Regions from separate parts of the Homo sapiens genome. Here regions 2, 3 and 4 are each linked to region 1. The links come from fine-mapping of genetic effects on gene expression. A gene starts in region 1. Each other region holds a variant in brackets. All regions are shown on one strand. Distances are between the middles of the regions. Region 1 holds the start of RASSF5 (Ras association domain family member 5). Region 2 overlaps RASSF5 (Ras association domain family member 5). Region 3 overlaps RASSF5 (Ras association domain family member 5). Region 4 overlaps EIF2D (eukaryotic translation initiation factor 2D).

What was found. PIP is the estimated chance that this variant, and not a neighbour inherited with it, causes the effect.
Region 2: its variant is fine-mapped to the expression of RASSF5 in monocytes after R848 (Quach 2016, PIP 0.93).
Region 3: its variant is fine-mapped to the expression of RASSF5 in thyroid (GTEx, PIP 0.92).
Region 4: its variant is fine-mapped to the expression of RASSF5 in blood mononuclear cells (TOPMed, PIP 0.94).

The regions. Positions count from the first base shown.
Region 1 is chr1:206,503,799-206,511,613 of GRCh38, reverse strand. RASSF5 (Ras association domain family member 5) reads right to left here and starts at 4,083. Exons shown (of 6, transcript NM_182663.4): 1 at 3,555-4,083. The coding sequence starts at 4,011. It overlaps LOC124904493 (a long non-coding RNA gene), which reads left to right and starts at 4,207. Exons shown (of 2, transcript XR_007066830.1): 1 at 4,207-4,748; 2 at 6,494-7,815. RefSeq lists silencers at 3,678-3,767, 3,808-4,167, 4,418-4,467 and enhancers at 7,065-7,114, 7,145-7,194.
Region 2 is chr1:206,574,019-206,581,833 of GRCh38, reverse strand. All of the region lies in intron 2 of RASSF5 (Ras association domain family member 5), which reads right to left. It also overlaps a transcript of EIF2D not described here. Among named protein-coding and RNA genes, the nearest start is that of EIF2D, 35 kb to the left of the region's middle. RefSeq lists an enhancer at 5,927-5,976. The variant C/G (reference allele first, on the strand shown) is at 3,632.
Region 3 is chr1:206,537,643-206,545,457 of GRCh38, reverse strand. RASSF5 (Ras association domain family member 5) reads right to left here. Exons shown (of 6, transcript NM_182663.4): 2 at 7,165-7,286. Among named protein-coding and RNA genes, the nearest start is that of RASSF5, 34 kb to the right of the region's middle. RefSeq lists enhancers at 184-726, 544-783, 727-1,271. The variant C/T (reference allele first, on the strand shown) is at 3,071.
Region 4 is chr1:206,594,933-206,602,747 of GRCh38, reverse strand. It overlaps EIF2D (eukaryotic translation initiation factor 2D), which reads left to right. Exons shown (of 15, transcript NM_006893.3): 7 at 295-412; 8 at 2,440-2,485; 9 at 2,912-3,015; 10 at 3,136-3,285; 11 at 3,656-3,745; 12 at 5,553-5,648; 13 at 6,910-7,030. Among named protein-coding and RNA genes, the nearest start is that of EIF2D, 14 kb to the left of the region's middle. RefSeq lists an enhancer at 1-861. The variant G/TGG (reference allele first, on the strand shown) is at 4,112.

The DNA.
Region 1 (7,815 bases):
ACTTAACACTTCACAGCTCTGAATAACGCCCCCTCTGGAGAGAGACTCCGACTCCAGGAGCAGACAGGTGGCATTCACTGACAATGGCCAAGGTGTGTCTAAGCATCTCCAGGAGGGTTTGAGTCAGGCTTAGGTTTCTCCAAGTGCCAGACCATCCCCTGGTCCAGGATGGCTTACGCAGCCACCAAAATGAGATGAAAGGTAAAAGGCCACCTCCATGCGCCTTCTACAGAAGGAACACTAAGGGACGTCATCTGTAAGGGGAAGTCCCTGAGAATAAAGCCAAAGGGCAGCCAGTGAGTTTCTCTGGTTATTTGCTGTTGACCATTCCCTCCTAGAATGCTAGAAATGCATTCTCGCCATCACCATCACCCCTACCCCAAAACACACACATGGGCTCACAGGACCTTTCGTTCTCTCTCTGCCTTTCCACAGATCCCCACTGGATTTCCTTCTCTATCTCACAACTAGGAGTTCTTTAATCCTAGAAATTAATATTAACTCTGAACTTCCCTGTTCACAAATCCAGCATTAACCAGAGGTTGGTTACAGACCTTGAAGTGGGGTAAGCTTAGGTTAGATGAACTTTTGCTAAAAAGGCAGACAGTGGGAAGAGTGTTTTCCAAAATGCTTTCCTTACTAAAGTGCCCTTCTGCCAACATGGTTCCCACCCAGTGTCAGTCTCCTGGGCAGACAGATGTCACTCACATACCCACTGCCCTCCTGCTTGTTTCCAAGGGCTGGGATATTTAATAGCACAAACAAGCCATCACTTTCATCACTCACCACATAGTGAGACCCTGCTCTGGGCCTGGCACTCTGCTGGGTGCAAGAAACACAAAGACAAGGAGCCAATGGCTTCGTGGCCCCTATGCCAGGCAAAGAAGGGTCTCCTCAGCCACAGCAGGACATCAGGTAGGAGTGGCATTTCTAGAGGACACCTAATACCCAAATTTTCTGGGATGTCTATGGCAGTCACTTCCCCACTTAGCTCAGCAACCAGGCAGAGTTCGCAAATTGTACTCACTGCTTCGAAAGGTAATCCTAGGAGGTGTCACAAGCCCAGACTAGTTGTTACAGCTGTTAGATGGGAGGGGACAATAACAATCATATCGAATTAAACATTCGTATTGCATTTTGCTAGGCCCTGTTCTGAGTGCCTTATGTATATTAATCCATTTAATTCTCAGATTAACATGATGAAGTAGGTAATATCATTATCCTATTTTTTTTAAACAAAGAAGCAGAACACAGAGATGTCCAGGACTCACGTGGGGACTAAGTGGTAGTCAGGATTCAAACCCAGGGCTCTGGTTCCAGTCTGTACTCTTAACTACTGCATAGTATGATTTTTTTTAAAGTCCTATTTCTGACACTTGCTTTTCAAAATGAAGATAAAACAAAGCAACCTCACCATGGAATCAGACCTTCAACTTAAAGAAAGATGCTCAGCGAGTTTGGCCTGCTGTGTCTCCACCTGCCAGCCCTCATCTGCACATCAGAACATTTCTCAACTTTTGCCATCCAGCCATAGGTTCACAATTAGTTAAATATTAATCATGACAAACAGAGACTCCTTTCTGTAGCCCCTCGATTCCAGTTTTGCTTTCTCTCCAGTGTTCAGACATCGTTAGCATTAAACCAACTCTGTGGGGGACCATGAGCGCCCAGGAAAGTAAAAAGACCTCACCAAGTCACACACAAAGTCAGAGGTACTGCCCGGGGGCCTAGATCTTCCTGCCACTAGAAACGACGTATGACTTAATCAAAGGAGATCGACAATTCTGATGTGACGTAAGGATCAATTCATTTAGTCATGGAGTATCACACACAGGCACACGCAAATACACACAAACGCACCATTATCACCAAACCAAAAAAAAAAAAGAAAATCACAAAACTATGTGCAAAATCTTCAACAAGTGATACAGTCCCCCAAAGTCTAACTACAAACTAGAATGCCAACGAAGCAGATTTCCTGGGATTCCAGCTATGATAAAACCCATTTCAGTGAGGCTCCTGCCTCTCTCCCTGTGTGTAGGGTTGTTGGATGCAGTAAGGGAATCTTGAAAGTGCAAAAGCTGCCAACACATCCAAGGATAAGTTGCATTTGATTCTACTGTAGTCAAAGGCATTTACCAAGGGACAGCAGCCCCTCTACCCACAACATGTACCTCTACAAACCTTTACTCCTTCCTTCTTAATTAGCACCTGAACTGGGGGTTCTGGTGGAGGAAAGAGCAGCACCCACTTGCCCTTCCAATCTTTCCCTTCCACTTGACCCAGGCTTAGTGTCTGAGTTCTATTTCCCTGCAGCCAGCTGCAGCGGGCAGCACATTGAACAGCCTCCGCTGCAGACTGCAGGCAGAAAAAGGGTAGGGTTTTCCTGATGTGGAAATCACTGCTGCTGTCCAACGCTGCAGTTGGATGGGAGACGTGAGGCTGCTGCCATAGGGGAAGGGCCTTTGCTGAAAGATGCAAACCACAATCCATTTCCAGAGATGCTTGTTAGAGGCTGTGCCATTGTCTGTGCTTTGGGCTTCAGATATTTGAAATATCCATGTAAACACATGAACACATGGCTGTGGATATCCTCTGATAAACACGCAAGAGCAAATGCCGGGGTGGGGGTGGAGGGTGGACACCTATTAAAGGCATACACACCCCTAACTGTAGGAGGAGAAAAATAATAAACCCCCAAGGAGACTGAAGATTGGCTCAGAAAATCTATACACTGGGGGCCCAGTGTTTTCTGGCTTTGAGAAGCGCCTGGCTCAGGAGGTGACTGGAGGGGCCTGAGGGCTGTGGAGAGGAAGGGACCCTGTCAGGAGCTGAGTAATGTTAGAGCATGACGACTAGGGCAGGAACCCAGGAGGAGGAAGGGGAGGAGGCAGGGCACAGCCAAACATTGGAGCAGAGTCCAAAGGTTTGAGGGGCCAGAGGTGAAAGGCAGGAGGGGGCACGGGTTCAGGGTGACTTCAGGCTCTCTTCAGCCTCACAGCCTGCCTTTATCCAAAATCTAACAAGGTCTCCTCCCTGTCCCAATACGTCCCCCTGGAGGAGAGGTCTGAGCCTGTACCATGGGCGGACAAACAAGCGTTTTGTCAGTAACCCTAATAAGCAAGGGTCAAACGGTCATCTCAACAGCAGTCTCACAACCCACTCCCAAGAACTCACAACAAAACCATGAGGGTGCACAGGGAGATGACAGAGGCCGCCGAGGCCATCACCCACCCACCCCCCACAACCTGTGTGCGAGTGTGTGTGTGTGTGTGTGTGTGTGTGTGTGTGGAGGGCCAAGGCACGCACCTGTCAGGAGACAGGTATCTGTTAACTACCGCATAACCATACCTAGGTAGTGGGCAGGCACTAAAGGATACCGGGCAGGGAACTAAGGAGCGGACTGTCCCCAGGGGTTGTTATCTCCTTATGTTCGGGGCTCCCCTGGAGCCAAAGAGTGTAATGGCCCCTCTCTCCCTGCCCCAGGGCCCTCCCAGTCCTTCGCCCCCAGACTGCGGTCTCCCCGCACGCCCCTCCCCTGCCTTCACACTTACTAGTGCAGCGCAGCGCCTGCCGCAGCACCTCTCGTCCGCACAGGTCACACCAGCCGGGGCCGCCCGGCAGCACCAACTCGGCGAAGCAGTGCCCCTCGCCTCGCTCCGCCGGGACTCTGGGATCCTGCGGCTGCTCGAAGATGCTCCGCACGTCGCGGGGTCGGGGCGCTCCAGGCCGCCGCCGCAGTCTCTGCTGCAGACCAGGCCGGAGCGGGCGAGCGGGTCGGGAGGCCCGGGGCGGGGGCTCCAGGTTCCCCCGGGCAGCCCTCCGGGCGCTGCGCCCCTCGCGCGCCCCGGGCGCAGTGGAGAGGGGCGCCGGGACACAGAGGCGCGAGGACCGGTCGGGGGGCGGCGGCGGTAGCTCGGGGCCGCTCAGGCTCTGTAGATAGCGCGGCGGCTCGGGGTCCAATAGTAGCGGGTACGGGCGCTGCCCGATGGCCGGGGACGCCATGGCCATGCCCGGCTAGTGGCGGCAGCTTTGGCAGCGGCGGCTTTGGCGACTGCGCTACTCCCGAGCCAGCCCCGAGAGAAGGGGCCGCCCCACACCAGCGCGCCTTTAAAGGAACCGCAGCCTGCTGGGCGGGGCGGGGGCGGGGAGAGTCGGAGTGGCAGGAAGGACGACCCAAGAGAACCGCCGACGGACCGAAGGGGGTAGGGTCCGTGCCAGGCGACGTCTGCGCGAGTGTGGATTTGGGGGCGTCTTCACCTGGAGCAGCTGCAGGATTCCGCAGAGGAGCGCCTCTGTACAGTACAGCTCAGAGGGCGCATTTCTGCGGGGGGCCCTAGGCCTTCAGCCCTGCCTCTTTCCCTTGCCAATCACTTTCCCCAACACCAGGTTCACCCCCGACCCGCACCCTCACGCGCCCCGGGAGGGAGCAGGTCGGAGGGAAAAGCTTGGGAACTGGCTCGATGGGGTCTGAGTAGGGCCCCTCCGTCTAGGCGTCCGCTCGCCACTCTCCCGCTGATGGTGCCGACAGGAGGGCCGTGCTCCTTGGCCCTTCCTCTCTCCGGCTTGTCGCCGCCCGCCGCCCCCTCTAGAGCGGAGCTCGACGCGGGTCCGGAATGCCCCGCGCGCGCTCCCGCAGCCGCGCTTTGTCCCGTGGGTGACCGCCGGATGCCTCCAAGGGCTGGCAGAGCTGTCCGCGTGCGACTTTCGCTCTGGTTGGATTTCCCCTTCCTTCGCAGCCCTGCCGGGTAGGGTATTCCTCTTTCCTGGAAGACTGGTGGGGGGTGGAGGGGAGTTGGGGGGGCTCCATTGAGAGAACGCTCCCTCGCCCCAAGGGTTGGGGGAGCTTTTCTTCCTTAGCCAACCCTCCGTTCCCCAGAGCTGCTCTAGTAATTACTGTGGAGATACCAGTTCCCCTAAATGCCCTAAGTGGAACCTGGTATGGATGGTTCACTCATGGGACCCAAAGAGAGATCTCCTTTCTCCCGGCACTTTCCCCCGTGAAGGCTTGCTTCAAGCCTTCATGGACCCTTGTCTGGTTTAACGCTCTGCGGTCACCATCTTGAAAGTCTTACTTTTTGAACAAAGGGCCAGGCGTTTTCTTTTTGCACTGGTTCCCACAAATTATGTAGTTGTTCCTGACAGGCACCTTTGCCCATGGAAACAGGCCCATCTTATGGATAAGGAGGACTCCTGGATCTCTGAACCTGGGCCTGGGCCCTGGCCCTCTCTAGCCCCAGTATTGTTAACTGTACATTGGGCTGGAGGTGGGGAGACAGGTGGTTGTTAACGTGGCACTCTCCAGCTCCGTCATTATGACTCAGTGATCACAGCTTTCCTCTTAAAACACAGGTTCGGTTTGGTCCGTCTAGCGGTGGTCATTTTTTAGAAGAATAGTCTAAATTCTTCTGGACCTGGTCTCTCCCTTCTCTTCCCAGGCCAGAGATGGGTCTCCCCCTAGTGCTTCGTAGGGGAATCTTCACTTTTGCTTTTTGTTTTTCCCTTGGAGGTAATTTTTAGGTAATTCCTAAGATTTCCAGAGTCCAGTGGCCAGGGAATTCCCAGCCAGCTTTGCTCCATGGCTTCTCCCTCACGGTAATCATAGTCCTCTGCCTCCCAAATCTGTAGCAGAAGAGAGGTTCCTGGGGCTCTGGGGGCTCACCAGAGGCGGGAGCTCACCCTATGAGGTGGTTTCTGAGGAATGACCCATGGGACAGTCAACCCCACAGTGCTACCAAACAGAGGAGCTCCGATGAGGGGTGTAAGCCACAGGCCACCGCCTCTGCCCCACCCCTCCTCTACCTTTCCTCTTCCCTCTCCTAACCTTGCTTTTGCTACATCAGTGGTTTTCAAACCTTGGTATGCATCACAGTCATCTGGAGGGCTTGTTAAGATTATTGGGCTTCATCCCCAAAGTTTCAGAATCTATAGGTCTGGGGCTGGGGTTTGAGATGGCTCATTTTGAGCAAGTTCCCAGGTGTTGATGCTATTGATCCAGGGACCCAACTTGGAAAACCATTGCTCTAGGTCTGAGGTGGTGATTCTGAGAATGGGCTTCTCTGTTCCTTCTCCCCAGGACAAGTGTACTTCAGTGGACCTGACAGATAAAAGCCCAATGAGGGCTATTCCTGAATACTTTCTGCTGAAGGTGTAAAAGGGAAAATACAATTTGCCCTTGTGGTCTCTTATTTTAATCTCCCACTTTTTCTGCAAGCAGTTCTCTTGGGGTTGTTGCAGAAATCTGTATTCCATATAAATATTTGCTGTGTCCACACTCTGTTACCCATCTCCACACACTTGAGACTCATCCCCTTCCTGGAGTGCAGTGGGTGGGTGAGGTCCTGGGCATGGAAACAGCTTGAGCTCTGAGTGACAGCCTGGTGGGGCAAGAAGCAGCAGGGATCTGACAACAAGTGCATCCCTGGAAGATCGGCTTTGAAAAGCCATTTGTGAAATAATTGCTAACAGTCTCCATCTCTGTCCTTCCCTGCAGCCTCAAAGCATGGTTTGGGCAGCCCAGCCCAGATTTCCTGGATAGAGAGACTCATGAGGAGGAGCGTCATCTCTGGCCACGGGAAACTGAGGGCTATCTGAAACCATCAGGCATAAAACTCTTCCCCAGTTGTCTGGGCTGTACAGAAAAATGCTCTAGTTTTTGTTTTCCTCCTGCAGCTCTGATTTGGTGGAGTGGCAGTGGCTGCTCTTAGCATGAATGTGGGAGGAGATTGTGCAGGGCCAGAGCCCTATATTTGGCTTCTGGGGTGGGAAAAGAGATGAAAATGGAGATATTAATCATATAACTCCATGTAACCAATCAAAAAATTTATCATAAAGTTTATCTTAAAGTTCATCTCCTTGAGCCAAGAAATTAGAGTTGGGGCGGGCAGTTGCCCTTCTTAACCTCAATGTGAGGCTCCCTGGCTGGGGCATGTCTCCTCTGATGCCAGTTTTCCCAGCCCAGTCCCCTTCTTCCTTGAAATAGCATTTCCCCACCAACCCACGACACACACATAGACTTCTTTCTTGCTCCCATGCACACACACACACACACACACACACACACACACCCCACATGAACAGCAGAGTATTCCTTCTTCCCCAGGGAAGAAGTGCTAAAGAAACTCTAGTCTCATTATAAGCTCAGGACATTGCTGGGGTAGTGTCAGATGCCTGGACTTTAACATTTTTTTTGATCTGTCTGGTCATCCAGGCTACAAGGGTAAGACCGCAGCATCCGCTGAAACACCTCCACTGGGAGATCTTTCCCCTTGTTAGTAGATCCTCTTGGCTCAGACCCATTGACTTTTTTCTGTTTGTGACTCACTCCCAGCAGAGTGGGTGTGCTGCTTTTATTTTTGACCAAGGGGAAGGATTATGACAGTGAGTTTAGAGTGTGTGGTCAGGGTGTGAGATCACTTCAGAGGTGGTCCCAGAGCGTGCTGGTTTTCCCATTGGGTGAGTTGTTTAACTGCTGCCGCCCAGCCTCCCTCCCCAAGTTCCCTAGTAAGAAGGAAAACGGAAGGACAGAACATGGCCTGACTTCCTGAAGGGGACATTTTTGGTTTTGTTTGACTTTGAGGCGTCTGAAGTCGCCTGAAATCCCCGAAGCTTTCAGGGAACTCCCAGGGATTCTGACAGTTGCACAACTGTCTACATGGAATCACTGTAAGAGTCAGGACAAGTTAGGTTATGCTGTAGTAATAAGCTCCACAGCTGAGTGCCCTGAAATAACAGACTCCTTTCTCGCTCACATTACATGCCTTTTGCAGGTTGGCAGGTGCTCTCTTCTCATCAGACTCACCATGTCTAATATTG
Region 2 (7,815 bases), 70 kb before region 1:
GGAGACACGCCACCCTGAACAACCTGCCATCACTTCCTTCCACTTTCCAATCCCACAGAACCGATGCAATGTCAGGCTCTGGCTGCCAAGAGGAGCTGGCGTGGCTCCAGCCTCCCACCTCCAACCCCTCAGCACAGCTGACATCCTCCTTTCTTTCTTTCCTTCCTTCCTTCCTTTTCTTTCTCTCTCTCTCTCTCCCCCCTCTCTCTCTGTCTCTCTCTCTTTCTTTCTTTCTTTTCTTTCGTCTCCCTCTGTCACCCAGGCTGGAATGCAGTGGCACGATCTTGGCTGACTGCAATCTCTGCCTCCCAGGTTCAAGCAATTCTCCTGCCTCAGCCTCCCAAGTAGCTGGGATTACAGGTGCGCACCACCACACCCAGCTAATTTTTGTATTTTTTAGTAGAGACGGGATTTCACCATATTGGCCAGGCTGATGTCGAACTCCTGACCTCAAATGATCCATCCGCCTTGGCCTCCCAAAGTGCTGGCATTACAGGTGTGAGCCACCGCACCCAGCTTCTGACATCCTCTTTCCATCATGGCATCGTTCCCTGGCCTGTCTGCTCCCGCTGTACTCTCCCCAAGGGGTCCTGACCTATTAATAACAGCCTGTGCTGGGTACTTTCACATACCTTCTCTTACATACTATGTATGTCATTCTTATTTCACAGATAACAAAACTGAGGCTGAGTTTAAGAAACATGCCTGTGGTCCCCTGCTAGTAAGAAGCTAAGTAGGAACTGGAATCAAATCCATCTAAGGCCCATGCTCTTCTCAATTCACCATGTAGCCACCATGGGACGGCATCTTTTGCTGAAGGGGCCGGCCTGCCACACCCATAATGATCACTGAAACTCTGTGCTGCGGGGCTGGGATGAGCAGCTGTTAAACCAAAGCCTGTAAGTTACCTGATCTGTGAAATGTTCATCTAAGATGAGTCTAAGCAGCGGGTCAGGCCCCAGAGGCACCATGTCACCTGTGAAGGTGGGAAGGAAGGACTTCTAACTCAAGTGAGATGCAGCCACCAGGATGCAGGGCCCAGCCTTCTCCTGTGTGCCTTCCCAGGTCTCTGGAACTGAACCTTGATTCTGTTGCAGACCACCCAAGGGCAAGCAGCTCTGGCCATCTCCCACTTGCCGGAGGTGAGTAGCAAGTAGTGTGAGCCTCACAGACTCTCTTCATTCACTGTCAGTCCATTAACCCGGGGACTCTCACAGTGAAGCCTCTCATTTTCCTCATCCCTTCCCTTGGGTAGCTCCCAGAGCTCCCCATCCTCAGTCCTTGCCAGCTGAGCACATGTCTATGGGACCAGATGTGCCTGACCCTGGCCCTACCCCTATACCTTCCCGCTGGGAGCTTCTAATTAGAAAGACCCCGTTGTCTGGTTACTATTATACACTCACTCTGTCTCTGACGCATGTAGGCTATTGCTCCTCAGGAGGTAATAGCTTTCTCATACTTGTCTATAAAAAATAAGTAATGGAAAGAAAATTCTAGAAGCTTCGGAAAGATCTCCTCTCATAGTTTCCAATCAAGCTAGAGCCATTTCCCCGTAAGAAAAGGCAGCTGTGCTGTGGCTTTCAAAGGCTTGATTTTGAATACAGTGAGAAGCAAAGCTGCCTTAGCCTAGGGTTTCTTCTTCCTGTTCCCCTTTCTTCAGCAGATAGACCCATCTATCTCTCCCCTTCCCACCACAAACGCGGGGAAGTGACGCAAGTGGCCACAGGCACCTCTGCCTTCCAGGGCTGACTCAAAAGACAGCAGCCCTGACCTCACCATTCTGAGGCCTGGCCCTCTGGCTGGTGATGGGAAGCCCTGTCTGGGAGTGCCAGGAGCCCCGTGTGTAGCCAACACTACGAATGTCACAGCCATGGAATGCCAGCACCCAGGTCTGGGATGGCTGCTGCCCACAAAAATATCTGGCAGACAAGATGTGACCCATGGACCAAATGAATCACCTCCTGAATTAGGCCAGCCAGCCACAGCCACGAGGGCTCACGGATCCTTTTTCCACCCAAGAGATGGCGTATAATCCAGACCAGTGGTTCTTAAACTTGTCTGCACAGTGCAATCATCTGGGGGATCTTTAGAAACTTAGCTGCCTGGGCTTCATCCCTGGAGATTCTGATTTAATTGGTCTGGGGTGCAGTCTGGGCATGGGAATTTTAAAAATCTCCTAGTTGATTTTAATTCGCAGCAACATTCGAAAAGAACTGAAATAGACAGACCCCTCACAACAATTCCAGACCTCAAGGGTCTTCATCCAGCTGCTGAATTAACACTTGGTGCCAAGAAACACACAAACACCCCAAAGGTTTACCTAACAGGCACTATCTGCCATGAGAGCGAGATCGATACTATAGCAATCTTCAGAGGATAAGACAAAGACTCTGATTCCTATTCACCTGCCAGATTCTTAAGGATCTGTCCACGGGTACAAAGCGAGAAACCAAGCAGACAGTTTTGCCTCTTGGGGTGGCCCAAGATAGAGACAGAATAGGGAACTCTGTTATGATTTAACAAATATAGACATTGGCATGTGAGGTGTCTCTCCTGGGGGCTCACACATCTCAGTGCATCTGGCATGGAATTCATCTATTCCGATTAAGCCCCTGGCATTGGTGGCAGATGGCTGAGCTGTTCCCAATGCACTTGGCATGTCCAGGGCACTGGTGAAAAACAGGTTTGTGCTCACATGTCCTATGCGGTGGAAAAGGGCAATGTCTTCTTTTAGCTCTGGAGGTGATTGGGGAACAGCCATGTAAAGAGGCTGGGTGCTAGGGGTTCACAGCGACACCCCGACCCTGAGTGATTCTCTAATGCTTCCATTTAAATATTCTTAACAAAATAAGGAGGACCATACCCCTTTCGTCTGGGGCCTAACTCAGGGCAGATTTGCCCTAAGCTGTTTTTCTTTATTTTATCACTAAAGCAACAGCAACAAAACCCTACTTCTGCACTCTAATCAATGACATATGTAATCTTAATTTTGGTGACTGGAGAGTGACCTAATGCCCTAAGGAGAGGCTCTGAGTGAGTCACGTGGCTTCTGGTATTCCCAGGTGGGCCCAGGGCACCCAGGAATGCTGTGGCAATGAGAGGGGGTCCCCAGGATGAGGGTGGGCTGAGGAGGACGTGTGTCCCACCGGCAGTACTGCAGCTATTATATACATCCGTGCCTACTTTTTCTTGACCAAAATCACAAACCTAATTTTTGCTAAAAAATTCACTCTCACTCTTTTTAAATTTGTCAGTCTTTCCTCCTTCTGGCCCACGATTTGAATCATCTCACACCTGTTTGCCCATCAGAAGTCACTTTATTTGTCAAGCTCTTCCTGATCACTCCAGCCCTGAATGATGACGATGATTCACTACAGCTAATATGTACCGTGCACTATTCTACTCACTTAGCATGTATTAGCTCATTTCATCATCACAGCAAATGTGTCACAAAAAATACTATTATGATGCTCATTTTACAGTCAAGGAAAGTGAGCCACAGGAAGGTTAAAGCTAACCTACATCTAAAGGCAACACTATACTATCTGGCACTTAAGTAAGCATCTACTTACACACACACACACACACACACACACACACTTTTTTTTTTTGAGATGTCTCCCTCTGTCAC[C/G]CAGTCGAGAGTGCACTGGTGCAATCACAACTCACTGCAGCCTCGACCTCCTAGGCTCAAGCAATCCTCCTGCCTCAGCCTCCCATGTAGCTGGGACTACAAGCATGTGCCACACTCCTGGCTAATTTTTTTTATTTTTTTGTAGAAATGAGGTGCCTTGCTATGTTGCCCAGGCTGGTCTCAAACTCCTGGCCTCAAGCAATACTCTCACTTCAGCCTCACGAAGTGCCAGGATTACAGGTGTGACCCACCGCGCCTGGCTGCTTACATTAACCTCCAAGTAGACTCATCCATCTCAGGTCTTCTTCCCAACTAGACTAAAGCTCTTTAATGACTTACATCATACTTCAATTTGTTCTCTGTGCCTGGTGCCTCTGAGCATGAGGCAAATAGGAAATACTTGCTCAAGAACCTTCAATGATCCCCTATTGCCTACAGTGGACAAAAAAGGTCTTAATTTCTTCTAGGAATTACAGTGCAGTGAGCCTTGGATTTCCATTTAGACTGAGTTCTGTGAGAGAAGCACCCACGCCTGTCTTGTCCTCTATGGTGTCCCAGATCCCAGTGCCAGCTTGACACATAGTAGGGGTTAAGTACCTGCAGGATGAACACAAGTGTGTGTTGGGCTTCTGACTCCCATGACTAACTACATGATCTTGAGAAAGTCAGATAATCTCTAAGCCTCAGTTTCTTCATCTATACATTTGGGATAAAAATCCCTTATTGTCTCACAGGATTGATGTGAAGGTAAAAATCAAATGAGATAATGGGTACAAAAGTGTTCTGAAAATCACCAAACCCATTCAAAGGCATGTATGGTGACTATCATCCCAGGAAAGCAAAGTTCTACCCCTCTGAGCCAATTTCAGTTTTCATTTTCCTTGAGTCCTTCTTCTGATTGGCCACATGCCCATAGAGTTTGTTAATTCCTTTCTCTGCACCAGTGGTTGGCAAACTTTTTCTGTAAAGGGTCAGACAGTAAATGTTAGGTTTTGCAGGCCACGCAGTCTGTTGCCACTATTCAACTCTACTATTGTGGCACAAAAGCAGCTACTGGATGAGTGTGACTGGGTTCCAGTAAAACTATTTATGGGCCTGGCATGGTGGCTCACACCTACAATCCCAGCACTTTGAGAGGCCAAGGCAGGATGATCGCTTGAGCCCAGGAGTTCGAGACCAGTCTGGGCAACATAGTGAGACCCTGTCTCTACAAAAAAAAAAAAATACAAAAATTAGCTGGGCACAGTGAAGTGCACCTGTAGTGCCAGCTACTCAGGAGGCTGAGGTGGGAGAATGACCTGAGCCCCCAGGAGTTCAAGGCTGCAGTGAGCCGTGATTGTGCCACTGCACTCCAGCCTAGGTGACAGAGCAAGACCCTGTCTCAAAAACAAAACAAACTTTATTTATGGAACCTGGCCATGTGCAGTAGTTTGCTCTATGCTGTTGTTTGTGCAGAGTCTCCTGCCTAGAACACTATTAGCCCTAGTTCCACCTTCTCTATGTAGTTTCCCAATGCAATTTCTCCAGTCTATAGCCATCTCTCCATCCTCTGCTCTCTTAATGTACCAGATCCCTGGCATTTTGATTCCCACATGGAGAAAGGTAATCACAGTTTTGTCCTGGTCTCTCTTTCTCCTGAATCATACTTCCTATGTTTCCTGTGTATTTCCTCACACCACCAGTTAATGGGCCTTTGTAACTTCACTCTCATTTCATGGACACTTTTCACAAGAAGACAAAGGCTTGGGCACTTCCTTGGATTTTGCTCACTTTACTCCATTCTGCAATGAGGAGGCAACAAAGCTGGCTGGGGTAGGGATGGAGGTAGACAGCTAGGCTCACCCCCTGGTTCTGTGACTCGCTCCCAAACACCAGCCCCATGGCCTCAAAGCCTCAGATTCCCATTGCAGCAAAAGTACAAATTACCATCGTCACAGATCTCTGCAGCTGCTGGCTAATGTTAAATCCATACTGCAAGAGCCTATAGAGGTGATTTCAGAGCCTGTGTGGCTACAGCTGGCATCTAATTATATGCTGCCTTTTATTGTTTAATGATTGTTTCACATGTTAATCCCATCTCCCCAGTGAGATGCTCTCTGGATGGAGGCAGACATTAGTTTGGTGCCTAAGCTTTTTGGCACCCCGCTTGGCTGAAACCTGGGCCAAACTTTAAGTAGGTGTCAGATAAATACCTGTTGATTGGGTGGCAGGGGAGGGCAAGACAGCCTGGGGAGTCTCAGGCCAGAGCCCACCCCAGACCCCTAGGTCCAGGAGCACCTCACACTCAGCTGCACCCTGAGGGTCTGATACCAAGAACACACACCAGGCTTTGGACTTTGGCGTTAGCCGTGTGGCTCAGCTCTTGGCAGCTAGCTGATGAGAACAAATGCAAGACCATCAAATGACCTGTGACGTCTGGGGAGCTACTTCCCCTCTCAGGGCCTCAGTTTCCTTATCTGTGAAATCATGAAGTGATACTGGAGAAGCTCTAAGGGCCCCTTCGCAGGACTAAGATTTTACACATAAGATAGGGTGGTGTTTTTTTCTCATCATTGCTTCCTCTTCTATTTCAGAGAATTGGGTGTGGAGATGGGGGCCTCTTGGAGGCTAGCTAGCATGGCTGAATGGCAGCAGGAATAACCAATCTAAAGGAGCACAAAGAACATTTCTAACCGCCACGACTTTACTTTTTCACTGCTCACCACTTTTCTCTATTGTCAGCAAGACTCTATCTTAGCCAAGCCCAAGCCGGTCTACGCATTCTTAACACACACAACTCAAGAAAACAAAACAAAAAATACCCCGGAAGCCATTCACCATGAGCCTTTGCCACATTTCCTCTTTCTCAGCTCTTAGCAAATCTGTCAGCAGCAATTCTTTCACCCCTTGGAAGGAAGCCATCTCCAGGCTTAAGTCAGGGAGGAAAGCCTCAGGCCCCTCCTACAGGAGAATGTCCATCTGCAGCTGCCTTCCACACCCCAAACACCCGGTGCTTCTGTTGTGCTTGCCCTAGATGGGAACGTCTGCAGGCAAGGGGCAGACACCCATCTATCTGGGCTGGATTTGAAATACCCTGCTCAATGTCCAAACCGCATTCAAAGGTGAGGTTAGGAGTTCAAGACCAGCCTGGGCAACATAATGAAACCCTGTCTCTTCTAAAAAAAAAAACAAAAACAAAAACAAAAAAATTATCCGTGCGCCTGTAATCCCAACTACTCGGGAGGCTAAGGCGGAAGAATCGCTTGAACCTGGGAGGCAGAGGTTGCATTGAGCCAAGATTGCGCCACTGCACTCCAGCCTGGATGACAGAGCGAGACTCCATCTCAAAAAAAAAAAAAAAAAAAAAAAAGTCATTGGTCCCTTTGTGATGGTCTCAACCAAATGAGAAAGAGGAATCCCTATGGGGCCTTACTGCAGGGCCCCCTCCCAGGTCTTCGAAGGCCTGTGTTCTGAAATGGACTCCACAGACCCACCACAGCAGTGAAGGGGTTGATTTCCACAGGTCCCTCTATGGCACTGTCCATTGTCCCAAAATTAAAAGGGTTGGGAACTCCTTAACTGTGTTCCCTAATAGGTTATTTGCAGCAGAGCAGGGAAGGGGCTTTATCATGGAGCTTCTGCTCCATGTGGAATTTGAGCAGCTCTGGTAGGGTGTATTAACAGAGCAGAGGGAAAAAAGAGGTGGCGGGTGGAGGTTGAGAATGGAAAGAGACTCAAGTCTCCAAAGACAAAAACGTAGAGCAGATGGTCAATGTCAACAGTCCGCCAGTAGTAACTGAATGAACTGCCTATGGGTGAGGATCGTGAAAGGCACCTTGAGAGATGACGCAGATGGGATGTGACCCTGTCCTTGGGAGTCTGCAGGTGACCTGAGAAGGGAAGACAGAGATGGATGCGCTGTGGCACACCAGAGCAAGTACAGTGTGATCTGGGACAAAAAGCCTCAAGCAGCACAGATCAGGCCACTCCCGCAGACTCCTCAGGTTGCCAGCATGCCCCAGAGTCTGGACACGGGGTCCCCTGCTCTTTGAGGTGACCATCTCAGTCTCTGCACAGCTCAGCTAGAGTGGGTTATACCAGGGAACAGTAGCTCCCTTACAGGGACCTAAGTTCAAGCCCCTGCAGAGCCTCATTATAATATTAAAAACCGACAGTAGTCAGGCACTGCCCTGAAGGGTTCAAGG
Region 3 (7,815 bases), 34 kb before region 1:
AGGCTGGAGGATCACTTGAGCCCAGGAGTTCAAGGTTACAATGAGCACCACTACACTCCAGCCTGGGTGAAAAGAGTGAGACCCTGTCTGTTAAAAAAAAAAAAAAAAAAAACACAAGAAATTCCTAAAAGTTTATGCACCTAATAATGGAGCTTCAAAATACAGGCATATTAACTGTAAAGAGAAATACACAAATCCACAATTATAGTTGGAGATTTCAACACTTCTTTCAATAATAAATGAAATGAGTAGACAGAACACAGGTATGCCTCAAAAAATGTCAGCTACTGTTGTTATCAGTCACAGTTCAATTAACATGTGTTGAAGCTTCCAGAAGGGACCCAAGACCCTGCACTTCCTGAGAGATGTGCAGGTAGGTCTATCAAGTGTGTTAGGGAGCCCGGGGCCTCAGGAAAGGACACATCCCCCCACCCCCAGCACCTGCCCTTTTAGGCGCATTTCTTCTTGCTCTCTGGCTCCCCCACGTGGTCATCCTGGGTTCAACACGTGGCTGTTGGGCTGAGGGACAAGGCAGGACTGGCCGCAGGAGCTTTTTTTTTTTTCTCAAGGGTCTGGAAAGGTAGAGACCGCGTTAATGCAGACAGTGGCATGTCTGCAGGAGGGAGCAAAGGACTGGGAGCCAGGAAGCACAGAACTCCAAGCCAGCGGAGTCACTACTCTGCTGCAGGGGCTGAGGGGTGATTGCAGCAGGGGCCCTGCTAAGGCTTGACAGTGTTTGGGGTTGGGGGTGTAGGCAGAAAGGCAGCAGGGACCTGCAAGGCTGAAATGCTGGCTGGCCGGCTGATCTATCCTGGAACCCTGGAAGCCATCTGCTCCTTTGGTGAGTGGGGACAGGGACTCATCCACAGGGTGGAATAGTGACTTGGGGCCTCAACAATAGTCATAAACCTTATAGCAAAAAATGTCCACCCAAACCACAAAGCCAGAGAGTCCTGGTTTTATATCCAGGACAACAACCCTACTTTCTGGTGTTTTGGAGAGTTGGCAGAGCCAGACCATAAGGGTTGTGTGTGCTAATCCAGATTTAGACTCATTCTGAGGGCAATGGGAAGCCACTGAGGGCTTTCATCACAGGAGTTACACAGTTAAAAAATCTACATCTAGCAAGACTGTTAGAGGTACCAGAGATGGCCCAGGACTGCCACCTAGAATACTCATGCTTTTGTCCACTCATGCTTTCACACACCTCTTCTCGCTGGAGCCTCACAGGGTCCCATTTCTCAGAAGAGAAACCTGAGACTCAAAGAAACTAAGAGGCTTGTCCTGGCTCATATGTCAAGTATTTCGTCTACACAATCTGGATTAGAACCTAGCTATTCAGTCACCCAGGCCAAGGGTCTGTGTTTTAAGAAAACATTTACTGCCTTTTAATAATATGACATTAGGGCCAGGTGCAGTGGCTTACACCTGTAATCCCAGCACTTTGGGTGGCCGAGTCAGGCGGATCACAAGGTCAGGAGATCAATACCAGCCTGGCCAACATGGTGAAACCCTGTGTCTACTTAAAATACAAAAATTAGCCTGGCATGGTGGTGCACGCCTGTAATCCCAGCTACTCAGGAGGCTGAAGCAGGAGAATTTCTTGAACCCAGGAGGCGGAGGTTGCAGTGAGCACAGATTGCACCACTGTACTCCAGCCTAGTGACAGAGCAAGACTCAATATAAAAAATAAAAATAAAAAATGACATTAGGAACATATGAAAAGCATTTGGCTATTCAAACAACACAGAAACAAAGGGCAAAAGGTGAGAGCCTCACTCTACCCCTTTCAACGTCCACCCCCTTCCAGGGTGAAATCTCTTTCAGTAGTTAGCTGAGCACTACCAGGCCCTCGTTCTGCATTTACACACACACACACACACACACACACATACACACACACGTGTATATATACATGCAAAATACAAATGGCCTGGTCCTATGTGTACCGTGGAGGGACCTGCATTCATGCTGCACAATTCCGTATCAGTATATACAGATCCAAGTGTCCTTTGGAAGAGCACCTTGGTATTGGTAAGAACAGCTGGCAATTCCTTCTCAGCATCCCAGGAGCTCTCTCCACTGCTCACACTGCCCCTTAGGCACTCCCTGGACCCAGTGCCCTGGTAGTCCAGGCACCAGATGGCCAAAGAGAGTGGCCTCGATAGGGCAGCATCTCCCACAAATGACACCTGAAAGGACTTTAGAACAGTGCGTGGATTTTTTTTTTTTTTTTAGTCAAGGTCTCACTCTGCTGCCCAGATGGGAGTACAGTGGCATGTGGCATGATCATAGCTCACTGTAGCCTCCTTCTCCTCAGTTCAAGCTGTCCTCCTACCTCAGCCTCCCAAGTAGCTAGCACTACAGATGCACACCACCACCACACCTGGCCAATGTTTTTAATTTTTAGTAGAGACAAGGCCTTGCTATGTTGCCCAGGCTGGTCTCAAACTCCTGGGCTTAAGCAATCCTCCTGCCTTGACCTCACAAAGTGCTGACATTATAGGTGTGAGCCACTGTGCCTGGCTAGTGCCTGGCTTAATAAATATTTGTGGAGTAAATTTGAGGCAGTCCTTAGACACATATTAAAAGAAATTATAAGTATTCATTTAATGTGTGCTGAGAAAAAATTCCTAAGTACATCAAACCAGTGATTCGAGGATATTTTAAAATTTCCTTTAATGTAAGTTTATTTAAATTTAATAAAATAAGTCTATTTAAAGAGAAATGTTAAGTAAATAGTAGACAGGTGGAACATGAGCAGGGCCTGAGTCCTGAGTGGGGAAAGTGCCTGAGTGTGGTCTGGGAACGGCCATGGGAGGGGCTGGCCTTTGCAGCTGAGGGCCTGGGAGCCTGGTTTCCGAGGTTGCTGCCCAGGAACTGTCTTAGTCCATTTTGTGTTGCTATATAGGAATACCTGAGGCTGGGTAATTTATAAAGAGAAAAGGTTTATTTGGCTTGGGGTTCTTCAGGCTGTACAAGCATTACACCAGCATCTGCTTGGCTTCTGGGGAGGCCTCAGGAAGCTTTTACTCATGGTAGAAGGGGAAGGGGGAGCAGGCGTGTCACA[C/T]TCGAGAGAGACAGCAAAAAAGAGATGCTAGGGTTGTCTTAAACAACCAGCTCTTGTGTGAACTAATAGAGCGAGAGCTCATTCATTATTGCAGGACAGCACCAAGTCATTCATGAGGGATCCACCCCCATGACCCAAACACCTCCCAACAGTCCCACCTCCAACATTGGAGGCCACACATCAACATGAGATTTGGAGGGGACACACATCCAAACCATATCAGGGACTCTAGAGGGTCAGGAGGAAGGGGTAGGACTCTGGGCCTGCTGGCATAAAATTTGAGCACTGGCTGCAAGGGATTGGAGTAGAAGGAATAGTGCTTATGTTTCTCTCTTGCAATCTGTGCATTCCATGTACCAAGAAAAGCGGCACCCAAGGCCAAAGGGACAGAGCTGCCGGGGTTGCCCTGGGCCGCAGTGGGTGATAATGAGAATCCAGTGGTGGGCAAGGACAAAGACTTCTTCTCTTGGGGCCAGCTTCTCCATAGGCAGCGAAAGGACTGAACCAAGCCATCAGAGGCCTCACTTCATCGTGAGGGCACCAGGAGCCACTGAGGGCTTTTTTCCTCCCAGGGGTGACAGGATAAGAGCACCGTTAAGACCACCAGAAGTATAAATTCTTTGGGGTATAATCCTAAATAGAAGAACTGCAGCTGTTTGGGTAACTGATTGTGGTCTTTAGCCAATAGCGATGATGTTCCTTAGCAAATGAGGCTTAAACTGAAAAAGGGGTCTAGGGTAGACTTGAAGGAGATTTGCTTGGTCACGCATGGGTGCCCAAGGAAAAGTCAGATATCAGAGACCTCAGAGATCTTTAAGGAGAAACTCCAAAACCCTCATTTCTGTGGTTGACAAAAGCACAGACAGCTCCCAGCGGCCTTCCTCGGTTTCTGATGCCTGTTTCCGATGACCTTTTGAGTTTGCCACTGGGGATTCTGAGCTCATTCCTGCCCGCTTCCACACCTGTCCCTCCTTCCTCCCCAGCTGCCTCCCTGTGGCATGGCAGAGACAAGACAGAACCTTGGGATTGTTGCTTTTGAAATGTTGAGGCCAAATGCTTATCTACAGGATGATCTCAATCATGTTTTGAAAAATGTATGAATGTTCAGGAAGAACATATAAAAATGTTAATAAAGAATGGTTCTCTCTGGATGGAGGAAAATAAATGATTTTCTTTCCTTAAAGAGCAGAGAGGGCCGGGCGCAGTGGCTCACACCTGTAATCCCAGCATTTTGGGAGGCCAAGGCGGGTGGATCATTTGAGGTCAGGAGTTCGAGACCAGCCTGGCCAACATGGTGAAACCTCAACTCTACTGAAAATACAAAAATTAGCCAGGCATGGTGGAGCACACTTGTAATCTCAGCTACTCAGAAGGCTGAGTGAGGCAGAATTGCTGGAACCCAGGAGGTGGAGGTTGCAGTGAGCTGAGATCATGCCACTGCACTCCAGCTTAGGCAACAGAGTGAGACTCTGTCTCAGGAAAAAAAAATATATATCAGAGAGGAGAAATGCCACTGAGACGAGACCCCCCTAAGCCATATATACCCGGAAGTAGCTGAGCTCAGATCTGAGCCCCTGCTCCCTTAAATCCCCCAAGAAAACAGCACTAGCACATGAAGTTAGCTCAGCCCAGGTCGATGATGTCAAGGTGAAAGAAAGCTCCATCTTGAGATTTAACAGAAAATCAAGCCAAGGCGGAAATGAGCACAAACAGGCTTTTTAGAAGAGGCAAGTGGGCCTGGAGCAGGGCCCAGGTTTTATTGATAGAGGGCTGGGTCCTGCCCCAGTTCTGCTGAAGCATGCAGGCAGGCCTGTCCAAGGCAAATACAGCAGCAGCCTGATCTGGCCAGCCCAGGAGCAAACCCCATGCCAGGCTGTTTGCCCACTGGGGGCGGTTCAGCTCCCACGCGGGGTTCTTGGCTCCTTCCTCTGCAATGTTTCAGTGGTGTTTCTGCTCTAGACAAGCCCTGATTTCACTTGCCAGAGGGTTCCAAGGTTGACTCCTCTCTCCAGCAGAGGAAAGGGGGTCACTCTGTTTCCAAAAACTCAGACATGAAAGCATCTCTTCACTGCTGACATTTGGAGGATGAGACAACGAATCCAGCCAACTCCAGGCCTTCCCTGGGCCTTTTGCCTGCCACACTTGGGAGCTGGCTAGCCCACTCTAGGGCAGGGTTTCTCAGTCTTCGCCCAACTGACATTTGAGGTCAGATAATTCTTTGTTGTGGGGGGCTGTTCTATGCAAAACAGGCCGGCTAGCAGCATTCCTGGCCTCTTCTAGAATCAGTAGCATCCTCTAAGTTGTGACAACCAAAAATGTCTCCAGACAAATGTCCTAGGGGGTGAGTAAAATTGCCGCCTTTTGAGACCTGCTGCTCTAAAGGAAGGAACAGAAAGAGACACAAAGAGGAGACCCAGGAAGTAATGGGGACAGCCAGGCTCCAGGGTGGCGTGCAGGGCTGAGGAGATCAGAAAGAAGAGACACTTGGAAGCTCCCAAAGAGAAAAGCAAATTGAGACCAGAAAAGGTTGTTTCAATAAGATTTTTAGGAAATGTTGCTATATGGTGTACTATGTAACCTCCTCCCTCTATCTTCTGAGGAAAACCTTCAGGAAACATCTGCATTGCCCATCAGCACTTTTGGGGGCCAGATGTGCCTCCTCTCCTTTCCCTGTGTCCCATCCTGGGTAGACAGTTCCTGCTAAGGGTAAGGCCCTTCCAAGAGGCTACATTCAGGCTACACCAGAAATAGTTACTATTCCAACGTCTGTGGAGCGATGTGCAGAGTTTTAAAATATACATTTTAGAACTAATCCAGCATCACCCTTATAAAAACATATATCATTCTTGCTTTCTAATAATTCTTTTTCCAGGGAGAGAGAAAGGCGTGAGGGAACAGCTGGGAGGCTGGTAACACCCATGGTGAATTAGGCATTTGAACACTGTTGATTGTGTTCCAGAAAAAGCATGTGATGGCTACTCTGGAGACCGGGGGGCTGCTCGTGAGTCTCCCATCCAGCACCTGGGTCCCCCAGTATAGTTTCTCAGAGCACCTTGAGATTTTCCGTCAGAGACACAGGATATATTTGTTTAAAGTCTCACTCCCTTACCCTACTGTAAGCACCGGATGTGTAGAAACCATGTCTGTAATTTTCATCATTAAATCCTCAGCATTCCTGGGCCTGGCACATGGTGAACACTCGAAACTTATTTGTTAAATGAATTAAAGGATGATATTCTTACTTCCCTGACTCGCAACCTTCAACCCACACATTAAGGCTTAAATCAAACATCACCTCCTCTGGGAAGCCTTCCCTGATTTCTCCCAGCAGAAACAATTGCACTATATATCCAAACACTTGGTTCATACTTTTATTGCAAAATGCATCACAGTGTATGCTATTTGTTGGTATTCTGCCTCCCCTGCCAGAATGCAAGCTGTCTGAGGACAAGAATTGTGACGTAGCATTTATTACCCCAACTCTCACCCATGCTTGGTACACAGTAGATACTCAACAAATGCTTGTTCAATGCAAGAAGCAATAAACACACTCCTCTGTCTCCATTCTAAATCCTAGAAATAAAAGTTCAGATACATCACAGTTCAAGTGTCTTTACAAAACCCAGAACCAAAAGCTGCTTTGGACATCAATTTTCTGGTTCTTTAACACAGGGAGAGAACATTTGCCCAGCCTCTCTGAAGGTTGGGCTGGCCTGGCTGGACAATGTGCTTGAGATGCCTCAGCCCCAGCATCCCCACTGTCCCAGGGCTATGAGGCCTTTAGGGACCGTCAGAAGGCTTCTCTGGAAGCCACCCCACTGCTCACTCATACCCACATCTCTGGCTCAGAGCCCTAAGCCACAATAGGCTCTGTACTTGGGGAGAACTACAGGGGACTTCTGAGTATCTTCAGAGTTCTCTGTGTCACTTCCCCTAGTCCCCTTGGAACAGGGTGTCTGTGAACTCCATCCAGTGCATGTGGAATCTGAGGCCTCATGCCACCTCCTGCTCACCAGAGCTCCTGGGAGAGAAAGTGGAGCCCGGGGCACCTGCAGAGGCTGTTCCCAGCTTGGTACGAGAGCTTTGGCACCTACCTGGCTGAAGGTCACGGTGAGGGTGCTTTCTGGAGAGGGTCTGTCCCGGGATAAACCCTCCTGCTGACTGCAGTCCAACTGGATCAGGCTGCGGCATTCTGGGTGACAGGTGAATTTACAGTCTGGAGGTAAAGAACAAAAGGGAGATTAGAGGACAGGCAGGATTCCTCCCCACTTTCACCCAGAGAAATAACCTTGGAGATTGCATTAGTTCCCAGTGGGAAGAGCAGTGCAGGAGAGAAGTGGTGGGGCGGGAGACAGCGTGAGAATGCCACCCTGCTCTCGGATCCCCCAGGAAGGATGCAAGTTAAGTGCTCTACGCGTTTGCAAACTGCTTTCACCTGCATTACTTTGTGTGACTCTGCAATCATTATTATTTCCATTTTACAGATAGAAAATCAGTGCCTAGAGACTGAGTGACTTTCTCAAGGTCAGAACTTCTGCCTCCCAGACTGGTGCTCTTTCTACCACTTTACATTAATCACCAGCACCCATAAATCCCTGGGGAAGGACTTGACTTTTATGGGCCTTATGTTGCCAATCTGTAAAATACAGGTTGTGCATCCCCAAGCTGAAAATCAGATCTCCAAGATGCTCCAAAATCTGAAACTCTTTGAGCATCGACATGACACTCTAAGGAAGTGCTCACTG
Region 4 (7,815 bases), 91 kb before region 1:
AATCTGCCCTGGCATTTGCCTGTCTTCAGCTACAAAGCCCTCCAAGGTTTCTTCTGGCTCAACTTCTCTGGGTGAACACTCCTAGCTTGGTGGGACTTTGTGGCTTGACTCCTTCTCTGGGGTCAACCCTCTTTAAAGGCTCAGTGCTCAAGAGAGGCTGGGAGCTTTGGTACCTGGGAATGGGTTCCTTTCAGAGCCAAGTGGGTGAGGTAGGGATGAAGCTGGGGGTCGTTTTCTTGTACCAGGTGTTCTGTATCCCTCAGGAAGGATGTGGCTCTTGTCTTTTCCCTGCAGAACAAATGGATGAGCTGTTACAGCAATGCTTCTTACATGCCTTGAAGTGCCGAGTCAAAAAGGCTGACCTCCCTTTACTCACCAGCACTTTCCTTGGCAGCCACATGTTCTCCTGCTGGTATGGAAAGCACTGATGTGGGCTGGAGGCCGGGGCCGGGGTCTCACGTGTGCTCCTTGGTAGTAGGACAGGATGGGGCCAATGCAGGGACTGGTTGAGGGACATGCTGTGGAAAGAGTGGAGGGAAGGCTTATCTGACAAATACATTAGTTCCTGGGTTCTAAAAAGTTAATTCTTAGCTTGCTGGGCTGTTAAAACAAAATCTTAAATTTTAGCCAATGAAAGGATATTGAGGACCGGAAAGTTAAAATTCCTGAGATTCTGTGAACACTGCCTCTGCCGTGGGGGTTCTGGGCAACCTCACAAATCGGGCAGCGTGTCCTCTGCAGGAAGTGTCCCAGGGCAGCCTCTTTGTCAGGAATCTTCTTCTGGAACATTCAACCTCCTCACACTTCTGAAAAGTATGTGGGGGGCCACATTAGGTTTTATTAGGAGGAAGAATTGGTGTGAACACCCCCCGTCCCGGCCCACCCCATCCAAAACACAAGCCATCAGGAGTGGTATTATTGCGTGTGGATAGAACCTGGATTTTGAAGACAGAGCTGTCTGTACTCAACTGCTAGGTCTCCAGGGTGTTCAAGCAATGTGCATTTTAGCTTGTTACTGGGCTTCTCTGAGTCCTAATTTCTAATAATCATGGGATTGCTGTAAAGATTACATAGCCTGAACCATAATAAGCATTCAGTAAATACTATCATGTCAGGAGGTTTGCTTATTGATTTTTACCCTGAGATTGAATTTATTTATTTATTTATTTTTTGTTTTGAGACACAGTTTCACTCTGTCACCCAGGCTGGAGTACAGTGGCGTGATCTCGGCTCACTGCAACCCCTGCCTCCCAGGTTCAAGAGATTCTCCTGCCTCAGCCTTCCCGAGTAGCTGGGATTACAGGCACATGCCACCATGTGCAGCTAATTTTTGTATTTTTAGTAAAGATGGGGTATCACCATGTTGCCCAGGCTGGTTTTGAACTCCTAACCTCAAGTGATCCGCCTGCCTCGGCCTCCCGTAGTGCTGGGATTACAGGCGTGAGCCACTGTGTCCGGCCTGAATTTATTTCTTTTTGAGAATCTGGCTGTGGTTTTTTAAAAAAGTGATTCTTAATGTAATGTCTTCCCATTTATACTTGGGTGTCTTTAAGCTATCCTGTACAAATGTGGTGTCTGGAGTGTGTGGAGGGATACTTGGTAATCTGTTCTGACTTTCTTGGGTTGCAAATATATGGTAAAGGGGCCCCAGAATATTCTGTAGGATAGGATTCTGGGGTGGATTCTAGAAGGACTCCTCGAGAATCCACTGCTATTGCGTGTCATGTTTTGAGAGAAGATGTAAGCTTTTATCAGGAATGTTCTCTCCAAAACTAATTGCTGTAGTGCAGGGGTCAGCATGTTTTTCTGTAAAGGGCCAGATAGTAAATATGAATATTTTCAGTTTTGCAGGCCACACCATCTCTGTTGCAACTGCTCGATGCTGCCATTGTAGCACTAATGTGACCATAGACAGTAGATAATTAGTTGGCCAGACCTGACCCCAGGATGCGGCTTGCTGGGCCCCACTCCAGGCCTGGCTGCCCACAGTGTGAGTTTGCTGTTGCAACTTTGGAGGCCACAGAAGGTTGTCTGGTCTGGGAGGAATCTAAGGCTGTATCCAATGTGGTAGCCACTGGCCACATGTCGCTATTTTCAGTTTAAATTAATTTAAAGTAAATAAAATTTAAAATTCAGTTCCCTTGGTCACATTAGTCACACTTCAAGTACTTACTACCCACATGTGGCTAATGGCTGCCCTGTTAGACAACACAGAGAACATTCCACGTCTATGGAAAGTTCTCTTGAACAGCACTGATTTAGAATGTCCCATAGTCTGCATCCCTCTCTGCTGTCATCCCTGGGCAGAGAGTTCTGGCACAGTGGCCTCTCTCTGAAGGTGGGGGAGGAAGGCTGAGGAAAAAGGCCCTCCTCTCAGTGTCAGGCAGGTCCCAGTATGACTGCTCATTAGTTTAATTTGCCTTTTCCATCTGCCATCAGCCCCGAAGGACGACAACTGGACATAAAGAAGTCAAGCTACAAAAAGGTAAGCAAGGATCTTCTTTGCAGACCCATGCAGAGAGTTGTGTAGGGGCACATATGACATAAGCCAGATGGATGCTGGGGAAGCCTTGTCTACCAGGCTCAGTCTAGAATTAAGCTTTTTGACTCCAAGTATAAGGGGGAAGAAAGAAACTCTCCCTGGGCTGAAGCAGTTGGTGGCACCCACTTTCCTTTCTCCTTTGACCCCTTTATATCTGATTAGAGTTCTGAACGGCCTCACTGGTTAGTCTCTAGCAGCTTCTTGCTCCCTGGCCCTCAGGTTGGGGGCCTCCCAGTTCCTGGTTGATGAAGGCAGGGGCTGTCTCATATCCCTGCACAGTCCCTGCCTAGCTCACTCTGGCACATCCTGGGTGCTCAGTATGTGTGTGGAATCAATGAAGTCCCCTACCACTGGCCCTCTCTCCCTTAGCTCTCTAAGTTCCTGCAGCAAATGCAGCAGGAGCAGATTATACAGGTGAAGGAGCTGAGCAAAGGGGTGGAGAGCATTGTGGCTGTGGACTGGAAACACCCGAGGTGAGTGCAGGGGGCCTGTCACTGTAGCCCAGCTGGCCCCAGGGCACCTGGGCCACGGACTGGGGATTGCTGAGATGCTAGTATAAAATGTGTTTTTTCTTTCCTTCTGCTGGGTTTTAGGATTACATCTTTCGTCATACCCGAGCCCTCCCCGACCTCCCAGACTATCCAGGAGGGTAGCAGGGAACAGCCCTATCACCCTCCAGATATAAAACCCCTCTACTGTGTCCCAGCCAGCATGACCCTGCTCTTCCAGGAGTCTGGCCACAAGTGAGTTTTTGGAGAGCAGCCCTTCTCTGCCTGCTTGGTGTTCTGGCCTACAGTTCCTCTCAACCTGAGTAGTGCTCTTTTGCGACTGGCAAAACCTGCTCTGCCCCTGTTCTCCCCTTCTCCAAAATCCAGCTTCCAGCCTTCTTCCCTGGGCAAGTTCCTCTGGACTAAATGAACGAGTAGGTCTCACCCTTTTCTGCGTGTAATTATTCTTCACATGGTCATGCTCACTTCAGTCAGGAAAAGGGAAGAAACTAGAGGCCGAAAGCTAAGGAAAGTTCCCTGCTCAGCAGGGAGTGAGTCTGGGCATCTGCATTTTTGTCTCATGGCACAGCATGAACTAACCCCTGGGTCACTTCTCCTCACCTAGGAAGGGGAGCTTTCTGGAGGGCAGTGAGGTCCGAACGATCGTCATTAACTACGCCAAGAAAAATGACCTGGTTGATGCAGACAACAAAAAGTGAGTGCATGAGAAGCACCAGATCTGTCTTATTGGGTCTTTGTCTTTATCAGACATAGACACATTTGGGGAGGATGTCTGGGAGGGAGAATAGAAAACCATAGCATCTTAGAGGTAATTAAGATCAGTGGTTTCCAAACCATGGGCTGTGGACACTCAGTTATTGTCTGGGGTGTTCAGATCCATGTATACGATCAACATTGACTACCGACTAAGTAAATATTCTCTCACAAATACCCATGAATCATCTTTAATTGGCTATTGTGAGGAATAAAATGCAAGCTTACAAAGAATTTACTGAAGTCATCATAGCTTTAGGTATTTATTTTTATTGATAGATATTTGTACATATTTATGGGGTGCATG[G/TGG]TATTTTGTTACATGCACAGAGTGTATAACGATCAAGGCAGGGTATTTGGGGTATCATCACCTTGAGTATTTACCATTTCTATGTGTCGGGAACACTGTAAGTCCTCTTTTCTAGCTATTTTGACATACACAATACATTGTTGTTAACTACAGTCACCTTACTCTGCTCTCAAAGACTAAACTTATTTCTTCTATCTAACTGTATATTTGTACCCATTATGGTATTATTTTCTTAAAAGGAGATACAGATGGTAAACTACCAGATGAAGAGAGTTCCATTAATTGTTTTTTACTTTAATGGCCGGACACTGTGGCTTATGTCTGTAATCCCAACATTTTTGTAGGTTGAGGTGGGAGGATTGCTTGAGGCCAGGGGTTTGAGACCCACCTGAGCAGCATGATGAAACCCTGTCGCTACAAAAAATACAAAAATTAGCCGGGCATGGTAGGGCATGCCTGTAGTCTCAGCCACTTGGGAGGTTGAGGTGGGAGGATCGCTTGAGCCCAAGAGGTTGAGGCTGCAGTGAGCAATGATGATGCCACTGCACTGCAACCTGGGTGATACAGTGAAACCCCATCTCAAAAAAAAATTTTTTTTTCACTTTAAAAAAACATCATCATGATAAAAAAGTTGAGACATACCAGCCTAATCTAATACCTTCATTTTATTTTATGTTTTATTTTTATTTTTGAGACAGAGTTTTGCTCTTGTTGCCCAGGCTGGAGTGCAATGGTACAATCTGTGCTCACTGCAACCTCTGCCTCCCAGGTTCAAGCGATTCTCCTGCCTCAGCCTCCCAAGTAGCTGGAATTACAGGGATGCGCCACCATGCCCGGCTAATTTTTGTATTTTTAGTAGAGACGGGGTTTCACCATGTTGGCCAGGCTAGTCTTGAACTCCTGACCTCAAGTGATCCACCCATCTCGGCGTCCCAAAGTGCTGGGATTACAGGCGTGGGCCACTGCGCCCGGCCCTATTTTTAGTAGAGATGGGGTTTTACCATGTTGGCCAGGCTGGTCTTGAACTTTTGACCTCAGGTGATCCTCCCGCCTCAGCCTCCCAAAGTGCTGGGATTACAGGCGTGAGCCACTGCACCTGGCCAACACCTTCATTTTAAAGATCCCCACTTCCTTTCTTTCTTCCTCACTAGCCAATTTTGATGCTAAGCTTAGAAAGCTGTGGTCACATGCTTAGTTAGTAGCAAAGGCTCCTGATCTTCAAATTTATCCCATCTCACTTTCCCTTCCACCTCCTGCTTTTCCTAGGAAAGCATTCGTGTATCTCCCACCCATAAGGTACATTGCCTTTTGGACTGTGGGCCCATAATTGATTCATATCCTGAATGTCTATAAAGGCCGTACGAGAGATGAATCCTGAATTAGCCTTCAGGTCAGAAGGGACAAGTCTAGGATTTCTTCATTGCCTCTTCTTTCCCTTTAGTCTTGTGAGATTGGATCCCATCCTATGTGACTGCATCTTAGAGAAAAATGAACAGCATACAGTCATGAAGCTTCCATGGGACAGTCTTCTGACCAGGTAACGAGCATTGGCAGTCCCTCTCCAACTTTTCTATCCCCTCGCCTTAATGTTGATCACATTGAACTTTAATACTGTCACTATCTTAGCCTTTGATTTTCTTTCTGTAATTCATACCAAGTCAGTCTACATAAACACAGGCTTGAGGAACTCTGATTTGGGGGGTCTTTGGAACAATTTGAGCCAATATGACATGGGAGAGCTTGAAAGGAAGAACAAAAAGGAACATTAATTAAAAATAAGAACTTCAGGCAGGCATAGTGGTGCATGCCTGTAGTCCCAGCACTTTGGGAGGCGGAGGCGGTAGGATTGCTTGGGCCCAGGAGGTGGAGGCTGCATTGAGCCATTTTCATGTCACTGCACCCCAGCCTGGGTGACAAGGTGAGACCCTGTCTCAAAAAAAGAACTTACTCTGTTAAAGTGAGGGCATTTAAAAAAATAAGAAAAAATAAAATAAAACTTCAATAAGATGCAGAAGCAAAAGAAGGCTGGGGAAAAGTGTCTTAAAGTCTTTAAAGGAAAAATTTTTAATATTCCTTCTTTTCCACATAACTGAAAATAGTTTATTGTCAGGAGTCAGCAAACTACAGCCCATGGGTCAAATCTGGCCTGCCACCTGTTTTTGTAAATAAAGTTTTGTTGGAACACAACCATATCCATTTATGTGTTGTCTGTGCGCTGGTTTTATGCTATAATGGCAGAACTGAGTAGTTGTAAGAGACCAGGTGACTGGCAAAACCAAAAATATTTACTGTCTAGCCCTTTATAGAAAAAGTTGTTGATCCTGATATATGTGATAGCAAGAGAAAACTTGGTTAGATAAAAGGTAGAAACTCCTCGTGGTAAAAGTTCTCTATAAAACATGTCAGAAATGTGAAGCAGCACTCGCAGGCAATGGGCCACTTAAGGCACATTCTTGAGACAGGTAGTAGCCTCCACAGGGCAGACTGGGCAGATTCTCAAAAGGCCAGGTCAGTGGACCGTTTCCAGGGGCCTAAGTCACTGATGTTCCCATCTTTGAATCAGTGGGTGTCTACCTTGGCCGCATTTTAGGGAGCTTTAAAAAATACATAGCCCTAGTCAGAGATACAGATTTCATTGATCTGGGCTGTAGCTCCCTAGGGATTTGAATGATTCTAATGTGCAGCCAAGGTTGTGGACCTGCAATTTCAGCCTACACCTAACTGCCTGCTGGTAGTGGGGTATGAGGAAATGGTTTCTGTTGGCTTTATCAGTTTGCAACTCATAACTTCTGTTTCAGGTGTTTGGAAAAATTACAGCCTGCCTATCAAGTGACCCTTCCCGGACAAGAGCCCATTGTGAAGAAAGGGAGAATCTGTCCAATTGACATCACCCTAGCACAAAGAGCGTCTAATAAAAAGGTAATTTTAGAAAGACACAATGTTCAAGGATAGTGATTTAATGTTCTTGCCAAGTTCTGGTCTCCCTAATGTGATTGGAGGTTTTTAGATTGGCCTCAAACTCATCAAAGATTTTTTTATGAAACACCCGTGTTTATGTGCCTGGGCTGGGCTCTGTATGAAACAGGTAAAGCTGACCCCGCTCACTCACTGCCCTCTAGGATTTTGTTCTAGGAAACTTGCTAGAGCCTGGTTCCAAAAGTAAACAAGATTGTATTTTCATTTTTTTCTTAGAACTATGTTATGGACATTCAGCTCCCACATATTCTTTCACCTCTTAGGCCTTGCTCAATGAAAATAACTTGTAAAAAACTTGCTGAAGGAACTGAGTGTGTTTAGCTTGGCAACACAAAATTGTGGGGAACCAATGACATCTCTCCTCAAATATGTGCAAAGCTGTCCCCTGGCAAAGTAGGGCACTTATTCTATATGCCTTGAAAGGACAGAAATAGGATTATTGGGTGGAAATGCCAAGAAGGCAGACTTGAGTCTGTCTTTGTAAAGACTCAAGAACTTTGTAGTAGTGTACAGTTACGAGCGTGGGCTTTGGATAGTACTGGGTTCAAATGCAGCCGTTGCCTCACTGCCTGACCTTGAGCATGTTACTTCATTTCTTTTTGTCTGAGTTTTACTCTGTGAAAAATGGGGATAATACCTACCTGGTAAGGCATTGTGAGGATCAAATGAAGGCGTATACATGGCTGAAGCACTTAGAATGTACTTGGCATATAAATACTTGGTTCTCA